Regions from separate parts of the Homo sapiens genome. Here region 1 is linked to region 2. Evidence: fine-mapped expression QTL. A gene starts in region 2. The other region holds a variant in brackets. All regions are shown on one strand. Distances are between the middles of the regions. Region 1 overlaps CASS4 (Cas scaffold protein family member 4). Region 2 holds the start of CASS4 (Cas scaffold protein family member 4).

Region 1 (5,379 bases), 43 kb before region 2:
TGCCTTAATATTATTTATTTTATTTTTTGCCTTAATATTAAAATATTTATCATATTTGCTAATAAGGTTTCATCAAAATTTTACATTCATGAATTTTATTTTCTGGAAAATGGAACCAACTTCTCCCAAATCCTACATACTCTCAAAGATTTTCAGTACCTAACTTAGTGGCCACAACTCCAGGTAACAATTGAAAGGTGAAGCTCAGAGAAGAGAAAAGGCTGCCTCCGGCTATTCCATTAGCACATGAGAGATCTGGAGCTCTAGGTCTGAAACTTGCTTTCTTTCCATTAAATTTCACACGCTCGCATTTACCTATTATCTCAAAATTCATAGCCCGGAAGCATTCAGACAGATAGGGCATAAAACTGATTTTTTCAGAAGGGGGTTATGTCTCCTAGTAGGGTTGGAGGGGAAGTTAGACAAGGAAGAGGAAGGCATACTTCGAAGAAGCACCTTCATTATTAGAATTGCATATTTGGAAAATGAAAACAATGATTGTCTTTGTCATAGAAAGTGAAGGAAAGATTGAAATGTCAGTTCACATGGACTCTTGGAAGCAGGGAGTATAAGAATGAAGCAGGTTGAGTGCAGTGACCCACACCTGTAATCCCAGCACTTTGGGAGGCCGAGGCAGGAGGATCGCTTAACCCTAGGAGTTTGAGACTAGCCTTGGCAACATACGAAACTCTGTCTCTACCAAAAACAAAACAAAACAAAAATTAGCCAGGTATGGCGGTGCGGGCCTGTAGTCCCAGCTACTTGGGAGGCTGAGGTGGGAGAATCGATTGAACCTGGGTGGTGGAGGCTGCAGTGAGCCATGATCTCACCACTGCACTCTAGCCTCAGCAACAGAGCAAAACACTGTCTCAAAAAAATAAAATAAAAAAGGGAGCTGGGCACGGTGACTCACACCTGTAATCCCAGCACTTTGGGAGGCTGAGGCAGGAGGGTCACTTGAGGTCAGGAATTTGAGATGTGCCTTGCCAACATGGTGACTCCCTGTCTCTGCCAAAAATACAAAAAATTAGCCGGGTGTGGTGGCAGGCGCCTGTAGTCCCAGCTACTCAGGAGGCTGAGGCAGGAGAATCGCCCGAACCTGTGAGGCGGAGATTGCAATGAGCTGAGATCACGCCACTGCACTCCCACCTGGGTGACAGAGCAAGACTTCGTCTCAAAAAAAAAAAGAAGAGTTTAGAAATAACGAGAAGTAATGAGGTAGGCATCAGATTATGAGCATCTTAAGTGAAAATATTAACCGTAGGGAGGTGAAAAATGTACTAAGATTCTTAACATGGGGTGCTGGAAATGTGTGGAGATAGTTTTGGTTATCGCATTGACTAGGGACTTCTATAGGCAGTGAGCGGGCAGGGGTTCTGGGATGCTGAACGGTTCACCACGCAATGGAGAACTGTCCACCCGGTGGCCAACGGTGCCCCGGGCCTCCACTGAGAAGTGCTGTCAGTCTAAAGCGGGGGCTTTCCAAGTGAGGTCCTTGGACCAGAAGCATCAACGTCACCTGCAAACTTGCTAGAAATGCACATTATTATGCTGCACCCCAGACCTACTAGATCAAAAATTCTGAGAGCGGGGCCCAGCCATGCAAGTTTGTTTGTTTTTGTTTGTTTGTTTTCTTGAGACAGAGTCTTGTTCTTGTTGCCCAGGCTGGAGTGCAGTGGTGCGATCTCAGCTCACCGCAACCTCTGCTTTCCGGGTTCAAGCAATTCTCCTGCCTCAGCCTCCCGAGTAGCTGGGATTACAGGTGCCCGCTATCATGCCCAGCTAATTTTTTGTATTTTTAGTAGAAACGGGGTTTCACCATGTTGGTCAGGCTGGTCTCAAACTCCTGACCTCAGGCGATCCACCCGCCTCGGCCTCCCAAAGTGCTGGGATTACAGGCGTGAGCCACCATGCCCGGCCAGCCATGTGAGTTTTAACAAAGATCATAGGTGATTGTGATACACTCAAATGTGAGAACCACTAGTCTAAGGCCTACTTAATGTTGAACAAAATAGCATAACTGTCAGCAATATGGCAGGCCCAAAGACTAGTGTTTGGGGTTCAGGGAGCTGAGCATCAGGAGGCCTGAATTCTTGTCCTAGTTTGCCTCTGAGAAGGTACATGACCTTATCCTATCATTGGACATCCTTTTCTTCCACCCTCTACCCCATCTGCCCTATAACCTAGGTAAGTTTCCCAAGCTCAGTTATTCAGAGACAACCTTTACAACCTTTACAAGTTATACTCTTTCCACCTTCCTCTTAACTTCTACTGGCTTCATTCCTTTCCTTTAAATGGACCCATTGTTTTTACTTACATTAATTTAAAGGAAACTGTGAAAAATGGTAAATGGAAAACTACTGTCATTGACCACAAATAGAAGGAAACCAATAAAAATAAGCACAACGATAACATCTTTGACTTTTTTTTTTTTAAAAAAGGAAGAACATCAAGTGTAAAAGAGGTGTTGAAGATATACAAGCCCCAAATCAAGATTTGCTGTTGTAATCAGAAACATTAAATCAGAATGTCAAAGAGGAAC[G/T]GAGTCAGTCCTATTTAGCCCTGTCAGTACCACCCACAACAACCTTGCAGAGCCCCTACAGTCATTTCAGTAATGGTTAATGCTTCACTTTCATTCCCTGGGGTTCGTTCATTAGACTCAGTGATCTCCAGGACTCTCTTGCTAAAATAAAGGACAAAGAATCACAAAAACGAACTCTCGCCCATGTGGGTCATGGCTGTAATGTTGAGCTATCCGTAGCATGATGAGACGAATCTAGCAATAGAGCGTATGAATCAGAAGCTTTAGAGAGTGAGTGCTATAGCTTACCATGGTTCCTAAGTCTTTGTTTTCATCTAACCTTTATTCCAAGATAGGTTTATCTTTCTCTTCTAAGTTAGGCAATGTCTGAAAAATAAAATCCCTTCAACTTACCAAATTGAGTGGTGTTTTACACTACAGTGGAACTGTTTAAGTTCACTTTAGACTTGAGCATTCTTTCTCATATTTTCTGTTGATGGTTCTGCCTACTGATTCCTTTTCTCAACCAAAGGAGACTTTGGCCACCCAAAGGCTGAATTTTGCCTATCAACATGGCCTGATATAATGACCCACATGGTTTGTTTAAAGTTATATATATGTGTATGTAAATTTTAAACATCCAAATTTCTAGAACATGTTAAAGCTCCTACACCACCAGGCATTTCAGCAGAACACAAAGGTCGGGGCTGAAAGTAGCAAATTATCTCCTTGACACAGCCCCCAAGTGACTTCTGGGCCTCTTAAGGCTCACAATCCCTGAACTGAAGCATCTCGCTCTATAATGTCTGAACTCATCCAGAAAAGTATTTCTTTCTGTCTTTTGTTTTTTTGTTGTTGTTGTTCTTGAGACAGAGTCTTGCTCTGTGGTCCAGGATGGAGTGCAGTGATGCAATCTCAGCTCACTGCAACCTCTGCCTCCTGGGTTCAAGTGATTCTCCTGCCTCAGCCTCCTGAGTAGCTGGAATTACAGGCGCACACCACCATGCCCAGCTAATTTTTGTATTTTTAGTAGAGATGGGGTTTCATCATGTTGGCCAGGCTGGTCTCAAACTCCTGACTTCAAGTGATCTGCTCGCCTTGGCCTCCCAAAGTGCTGGGTTTACAGGAGTGAGCCACTATATCCCAACTCTTTTTTTTCTTTTCTTTTTTTTAGAGATTAGCTCTTGCTCTGTCACCAAGGCTGGAGTGCAGTGGCACCATCATAGCTCTCTGCAACCCCAAACTCCTGGTCTCAAGGGATACCCCCACTCAGACTCCCAAGTGCATGAGCCACTACACCTGGATATTTAAAAATAAATTTTGTACAGCTGGGGTCTCACTATGTTGCCCAGCCTGGTCTCAAACTCCTGCCTCAAGGGATCCTCCTGCGTTGGCCTCCCAAAGCGTTGGAATTACAGGCATAAGCCACCAGGCCCAGCCTCAGAAAAGTATTTCTAAGAGTAGCTGAAGTCTGGGGGCTGATCAGACCATGGGCAATTTGAAAGAATGTTTCTACTTCCTCTTTCGTTGCTAAGAAACACACTGAGAATGACTAAATTTATAACTTTCAAAAATGCAAGGAGACTTGGTGGTGAGGTTTTAAAAATCTACTCAAATAATAAATTTTTAAGAAATTTAAAAATCCCTTTTAATTCTAATATGGTAAACTTGAACGCCAAAAGTTTTCGGAAGAAATCCAAATCAACTGACCTATCTGCCTATGCTGACCTATCTTTATCTGACTTGTTAATAAGATTTCATCAAGAATTTTACTTTCATAAATTTTATTTTCTAGAAAATGGAACCAGTGTCTCCCCAAAGCCTATACACTATGGAAAGAGTCTCAGCATCTTAGTAGCCACTACTCCAGGTAACAATTGAAGCCCCTTTTTCGATCACTTGGAACTCTGAACTCACCTGTCCACAGATATTTGCCCTATTTTTCTTTAATAGTTCAGAAGAGTGTTCATCTTCCCTTTGCTTAGTGGAAGGGGTACTCTTTTGGTGTGATTCAGTTTCTCTTTGGGGAGGCTGGATGTATTTTTCACACTTAAATTCTGCATTTGGGGTCAACTGCACAGTCTCTTCCTTTTCACAGTTCCGCTTAAAAAGGAGCCTTCCATTGGCAATGACAATGGAGGCAAACCTCTTGATGTCTTCTGGAAGCATCCGTGCCACCATGACAAACCTCTCAAGGTCATCTGGGCTGTTCTGGACACTGTCAGTCACAAGAACTTCCAGAGGCCAATTGCGATTATCCAAGCTTTCCTTTGTTTCAAGCAGGATGCGGTAGGAGTTGGAGATGGTCTGCATCTGGTCCCGAATTCTGTTCTGAAGGTTACTGTCAGTGAGGTTACAGGCAGTCCCATGGACTCCTCGGGCAAAATCCAGAAATTCTCTTACAGATTCTTCTATGTGATCAGTGGACCTGTGGATTGCATCAATGTTGGCCTCCAGATAGTCTCGGAATCTCCACTTCCTGCTGACAAAGAGCATCAGGCCAGCGACAGAGCTGACCACCTTGTGCTGCAGAGCCATCACTGTCTCCTTGGCCACATCCAGGTCCAAGGAGAGCTCCTTTGCTGACTCCTCCGAGGAAGAGCTGGAGGAGTCGTCGGTGGATGTGGTGGAGCACGAGGAAACGATGCTAGCTCTGCTGTCAGAACTGGAACCTGATAATCTGTCCGGTTCAGGAGATGGGGAAGTTGTCCGTCTGGAGAACCATGAGGAATTATGGCCCGCGGAATTCTCTGACACCTCCTTGGCTTTCTCCAGCTCCTTCCCAGCCTGAGAAACACTCGACGTTGCTTTAGGGATGTCATAAATATTGGGCTTGGTGTTCTGCTGTTCCACTCGGG
Region 2 (5,379 bases):
AGGATGTTGTGAGGATGTAATAGTGAGAAAATGCAAGTAGAGCACTCAGCACAGGGCCTCACATGTAGACAATCGGTAAGGGTTGGCTACTATTTATATATATATATAAAGCAATTCTCCTGCCTCAGCCTCCCGAGTAGCTGGGAATACAGACGTGCACCACTATGCCCAGCTAATTTTTTTGTATTTTTACTAGAGATGGGGTTTCACCATTTTGGCCAGGCTAATCCCCTGACCTCAGGTGATCCACACGCTTCAGCCTCTGAAAGTGGTGGGATTACAGGCATGAGCCACCGCTCCCGGCCTATCTGTATAATATTAATAGCAGAATTTCATGGGGATGCTGGGAATATCAATTATATGTTCTATGCAAACATGCATGTTATTTACAAATTGCAGTGGGGCTCGGTGGTGTGCACCTGTAATCCTGTACTTGGGAGGCTGAGGCAGAAGAATCACCTGAGTTCAGGAATTTGAGTCCAGCTTGGACAACAGAGTGATACCCCCATTGCTAAAAATATTTTTTTTAAATAACAAAACCCCACCCAATTGTAAAGCGCTACATAAATTATTTAGGCAGAATAAGCAGTACATAAAAAGAAGTCTAAATCATAAAAAATCTAGGCTGTTTAGAAAAAAGGTCAATGTTATGAAAGAGAAAAAGGTAGTAGATTGTTCTAGATTAAGAACTGAGAATTGACAAACACCACCTGGATCAGAAAGACAAACACACACACAAACAACAACAGCCAGAAAAGCTAAAAAGGATAATTTTGGAAAATGTGAATGTGGACTGAATAGTAGAATGGCATTATTAAATCAACGTGAATTAGACTGAATAGTAGAAAGGCATTATTAAATAAATGTGAAATGTTCTTGGGTATGATGATATGTAGATATTCTTCTACGTTCTGTAGATGAATGTCCTTGTTCTTAGGAGACACATAATGAAGTTTAGGGGTGGAGCGTCATTGTATTGGCCATTTATTTTCAAAGAGTTTAACAACAACAATAAAAATGAAGTGTGTTCCAGTGTCTAAATATACACAAATAAATGCACACAAATATGACAAAGTACCAGAAACCAATGATCTAGGTGAAGGATATGCAGGGATTTACTGAATAACCCCCACGCTTCCCATATTTTTCCAATGGTTTGAAATTTTTCAAAGTAAGTAGTTGGGGACAAAATTCTAGGGTAGCTAAGATATTTACATATAATCTATACAAGAGAGACTGTCATGGGTTACTCAGTCACAAATTCCACTAGTGACTTTTTTTTTTTTTTTTTTTTTTTTTTTGAGACAGAGTCTTGCTCTGTCACCCAGGCCGGAATGCAGTGGTATAATCTCAGCTCACTGCAACCTCTGCCTCCCAGGCTCAAGCGATTCTTGTGCCTCAGCCTCCCGAGTAGCTGGGATCACGGGCATGCGCCACCACGCTCAGCTAATTGTTGTATTTTTGGTAGATATGGGGTTTTTTCATGTTGATCAGGCTGGTCTCAAACTCCTGGCCTCAAGTGATCCACCTGCCTTGGCCTCCCAAAGTGCTGGGATTACAGGTGTGAGCCACCGCAGACAGCCACACTAGTCACTTTTATTATAATGAAAAATAAGCATTGATTTTTATAAGCAAGCTCCCCATTTACTGCTTGTTTCATTTCTTTTTTCCTGTTCTACTTAAAATTTAAAAAGGGCATAGCAAGATGAAAACACAACCTTGAGCTTCACTTTCTTTATGTCTGGGTAAATTTTTTTTTAATATGGTAGCCATTTTAACTTTTCTTTTCTTTTTTTTTTTTTTAAGATGGGGTCTCGCTATGTTGCCCAGGCTGGACTCAAACTTCTGGGCTGAATTAATCTTCTCACCTCAGCCTCTCCGGTAGCTGGAGTACAGGTATGTACCACCGTGCCTGGCTTCTTTCACCTTTCTAAATAGTGAATCTTTTTTGATTCATGACAGGCATGAAGTCTGTCTGAAAGCTCCAGCTTTGCTCACATAATGCACAAGTTAACATGAAAATAACATGTAAGTGCCCACTGTGGGCTCAGCACGGGAGGCTGCAGGCAAGGGTCTGGGCTCTGCTGTTGGGAGGTGAGCACAGAAACCAAATAGGACAGTTAGAGTGGCACTGAGTGTCTTTGGGGTCCAGAGAAAGAAGGAATTAGCGGGGGCTGAGGCAGACTCGCATCTTGCTTCAGGAGTTTGCTGGACGCAAAATGATGGACGGCGCTGTCAACCAAGTAAGCTGATTTCTACTACAAAGTCATTTTCACCCATCTTGGATGCAAACTGGTAAGGAGCTTTACAACACATCTATTTCCCACACTTAAACTTATGTTAAACTTTCCCATCTCCAACTCACACGTCACTGGTATTCAACCTTTATTAGAAAGTCACAACTAAAGCTGGTCAACACCCTTAATCATCACAGCTTGCTCCCCGCCAGAGCCCATTCAAACAGCCCCACATCACTCACCTTGGGCGCACAGTCCATGATGCCTGTTCCCTTCATGTCGGTGATGTGGAGCAGCTCCCCTGAGCTCTGCAGCTAGTATCTCCAGCTTCAGAGGCAGATTGTGCAATGTCACTGCATGCTTCTGGCTGGTTCTCAGAAACTGAATTCTATGGAGCTATCTGACAACACATGGGAAACGATCAAAAAGACTCTCCCAGCAGGCAAACTTTCTGGAAAGCACGATAAGAGTAAAATGAAAGCAGTGAAGCAGGGGAGGACCAGAAATACAAGCCACACTCACGTCTCAATGCCTGACGTCTCACTTTGTCTGTAAGTAGAGACTGTCACTCATTTGCTATGTGAAACCACAAAAGAAGAAGAAGAAGAAAAAAACACCACTCTTCTGCTTTATAGGGCGAAGTTCCTACTTCGAAGAGCTCAGTGTATGAACACACAGCATTCTTGTCCTTTGAACTCTGTGGAACAACTCCAACCGAACAGACCAAGCTCATTTCCCTGATGAGAGGCCACTAGGCCAAATTTCTGATAGCGGTCAGCATTTCTTCCTTCCTGCTCCCTAAAACTTGCCTTATGACAGCCAGGATAAAAGCAGTCAAACAGGCTGCCTTAAAGGACACAGTCTCCACTCTACCCACCCTGTCAGTTGTGCATTCACCCTGCTCGGAACCCCATGCTCATCTCCTGGTCTTTGCTCATGGTACCTAATGAATAACATCTTCTGGGTACTGGCTCTGCACTGAGGGCTATGCTGAGCCCCGCACCTGTATTCTCTCTCTTAAATCAAATAAACTTATCGTGTGTGTTGTACTTGAAACCCCTGCTAGCTCATGCAGTTTATCATCACTTGCCAACTCTTTTTACTTTTCCTAAATTCAGATCCAATCTCTAGAGAGGACCTACAGCATAGCAGACACTGAGCAAAATAAGTCTGCATTTTTTTTTTTTTTTGAGACGGAGTCTTTCTCTGTCACTCAGGTGGGAGCGCAGTGGCGCAATCTCGGCTCACTGCAACCTCCACCTCCCGGGTTCAAGTGATTCTCCTGCCTCAGCCTCCAGAGCAGCTGGGATTACAGGCACCCGCCACCACGCCTGGCTAATTTTTGTATTTTCAGTAGAGACAGGACTTCACCATGTTGGCCAGGCTGGTCTCAAACTCCTGACCTCAAGTGATCCACCCACCTCAGCCTCTCAAAATGCTGGGATTACAGGCGTGAGCCACAACGCCTGGCCCCGGCCTGCATTTTTATTTAGACAAAATGGTGCCCATTCTTCCAAGCCAGGCTCAAGTTCTATCCCCAACCAGCTGTGGGGGATAGCTTACCGCTATCTTCTTGTCAGACAGCATTTTTTAATTTTTTATTTTTAAATTTTCTTTTCTTTTACCACACCTCTGAGGCAAGTTCAACAGATAGCACTTAGCGTCTTGTCCTCTGGTTGTCCCATGTGTCGTCCCCACAAGTCTGGGCACCAGGATGTATTTACCCATTGAAGTAGCTGACTGATTTCTGGCTGAGACAGTCCACATTTTTAAATGTTATCATTGTTAGAAATTAACTTCAGGGCCAAGTAATTGGCATGCTGCAGGCGATAGCAGATAACAGGGAGGGAACAATGACCCCACGCAATGAACAGTTTGGTTCAAGGAGGAGATCCATAGAGATATTAAGATATAAATTATATTAATAATAATATATTAATATTATATTAAGATATAATTCAGGTACCATAAAATTCACCTTTATTTATTTATTTTTTTTGAGACGGAGTCTTGCTCTGTCACCAGGCTGGAGTGCAGTGGTGTAATCTCGGCTCACTGCAACCTCCACCTCCAGGTTTCAAGAGATTCTCCTGCCTCAGCCTCCCAAGTAGCTGGGATTATAGGTGCGTGCCACCATGCCCGGCTAATTTTTTTGTATTTTAGTAGAGACAGGGTTTCACCATGTTGGCCAGGATGGTCTTGATCTCCTGACCTCGTCATTCACCTGCCTTAGCCTCCCAAAGTGCTGGGATTATAGGTGTGAGCCACCGCACCTGGCCAATGCACCTTTTTGAAGTATACAATTCAGTGGTTTTTAGTACATTCAGAGTTGTGCAACCACCATTTCAAAAAGTAATCCTCTTTCAATTCCTGGACATTTACCCCATTAGCAGTTACTTGTTCTTCCCCCAGCCCCTGGAAACCACTGTTTCTGCTGTATTGTTGACTTTTATGTCTGAAATTCTCTGTAATGAAAAGGAAGGATGGATAAACTTGCCCAAGGTCACAGAGTAAAGTAACAGACCCAGAAACTGAATTCAAGTCTCTTAGAAAAGACTCCACAGTAACTCAAGTTCAGATGGTTTCCATCAACTTGGCAGACTCCCGGCAGTGATTCTTCCCTATACTGAAGAGCCTGCCCTTAAGCTCATAATACAGATCAGAATGCTATAATTCACAAGTTGTTTTTTCTAGGGAAAACAACCTCAACTAGAAAAGTAAGACACAAAAGTAATAGGCTTTGGCCCTGAAATTATATCAACTAGCTCCTACATAGATACCTAGTTTGATATTTTGTGAATAAGGAACTTGACCTCTCGGTCTGTTATTTGAGCCCTCTATGGTTTTTCTGAATGAAAGGTGTGAGAAACTGCCTTAGACATTTTGCTGCAATCCATTAGTATTTTAAGGCAAATGAGCCTTTAATGTGGACAAACATTGCAAGAACTATTAGTCTAGGAAACTGGGTGCTTGCATAATATCCGGTTGTCTGAAGGCTGAAACAGCTGGAGTTCAAGGGAACTACGTCAGAAGGACTCTAGTGAGGTAATCTTAATGCTCTTGGCAAATGTGCTATCAAGAACAGTAGTTTGGACCGAATTTTCTTTTCTGAGACAAGTGAGTCTGACCAATTCACTTCTAT

What was found. PIP is the estimated chance that this variant, and not a neighbour inherited with it, causes the effect. A credible set is the group of variants that fine-mapping cannot tell apart.
Region 1: its variant is the best candidate, but not a certain one, in a credible set for the expression of CASS4 in T cells (TOPMed, PIP 0.72).

Annotation. Positions count from the first base shown.
Region 1 is chr20:56,452,189-56,457,567 of GRCh38, reverse strand. It overlaps CASS4 (Cas scaffold protein family member 4), which reads right to left. Exons shown (of 6, transcript NM_020356.4): 5 at 4,439-5,379. Among named protein-coding and RNA genes, the nearest start is that of RTF2, 14 kb to the left of the region's middle. The variant G/T (reference allele first, on the strand shown) is at 2,543.
Region 2 is chr20:56,409,595-56,414,973 of GRCh38, reverse strand. It overlaps CASS4 (Cas scaffold protein family member 4), which reads right to left and starts at 2,714. Exons shown (of 6, transcript NM_020356.4): 1 at 2,480-2,714. The coding sequence starts at 2,515.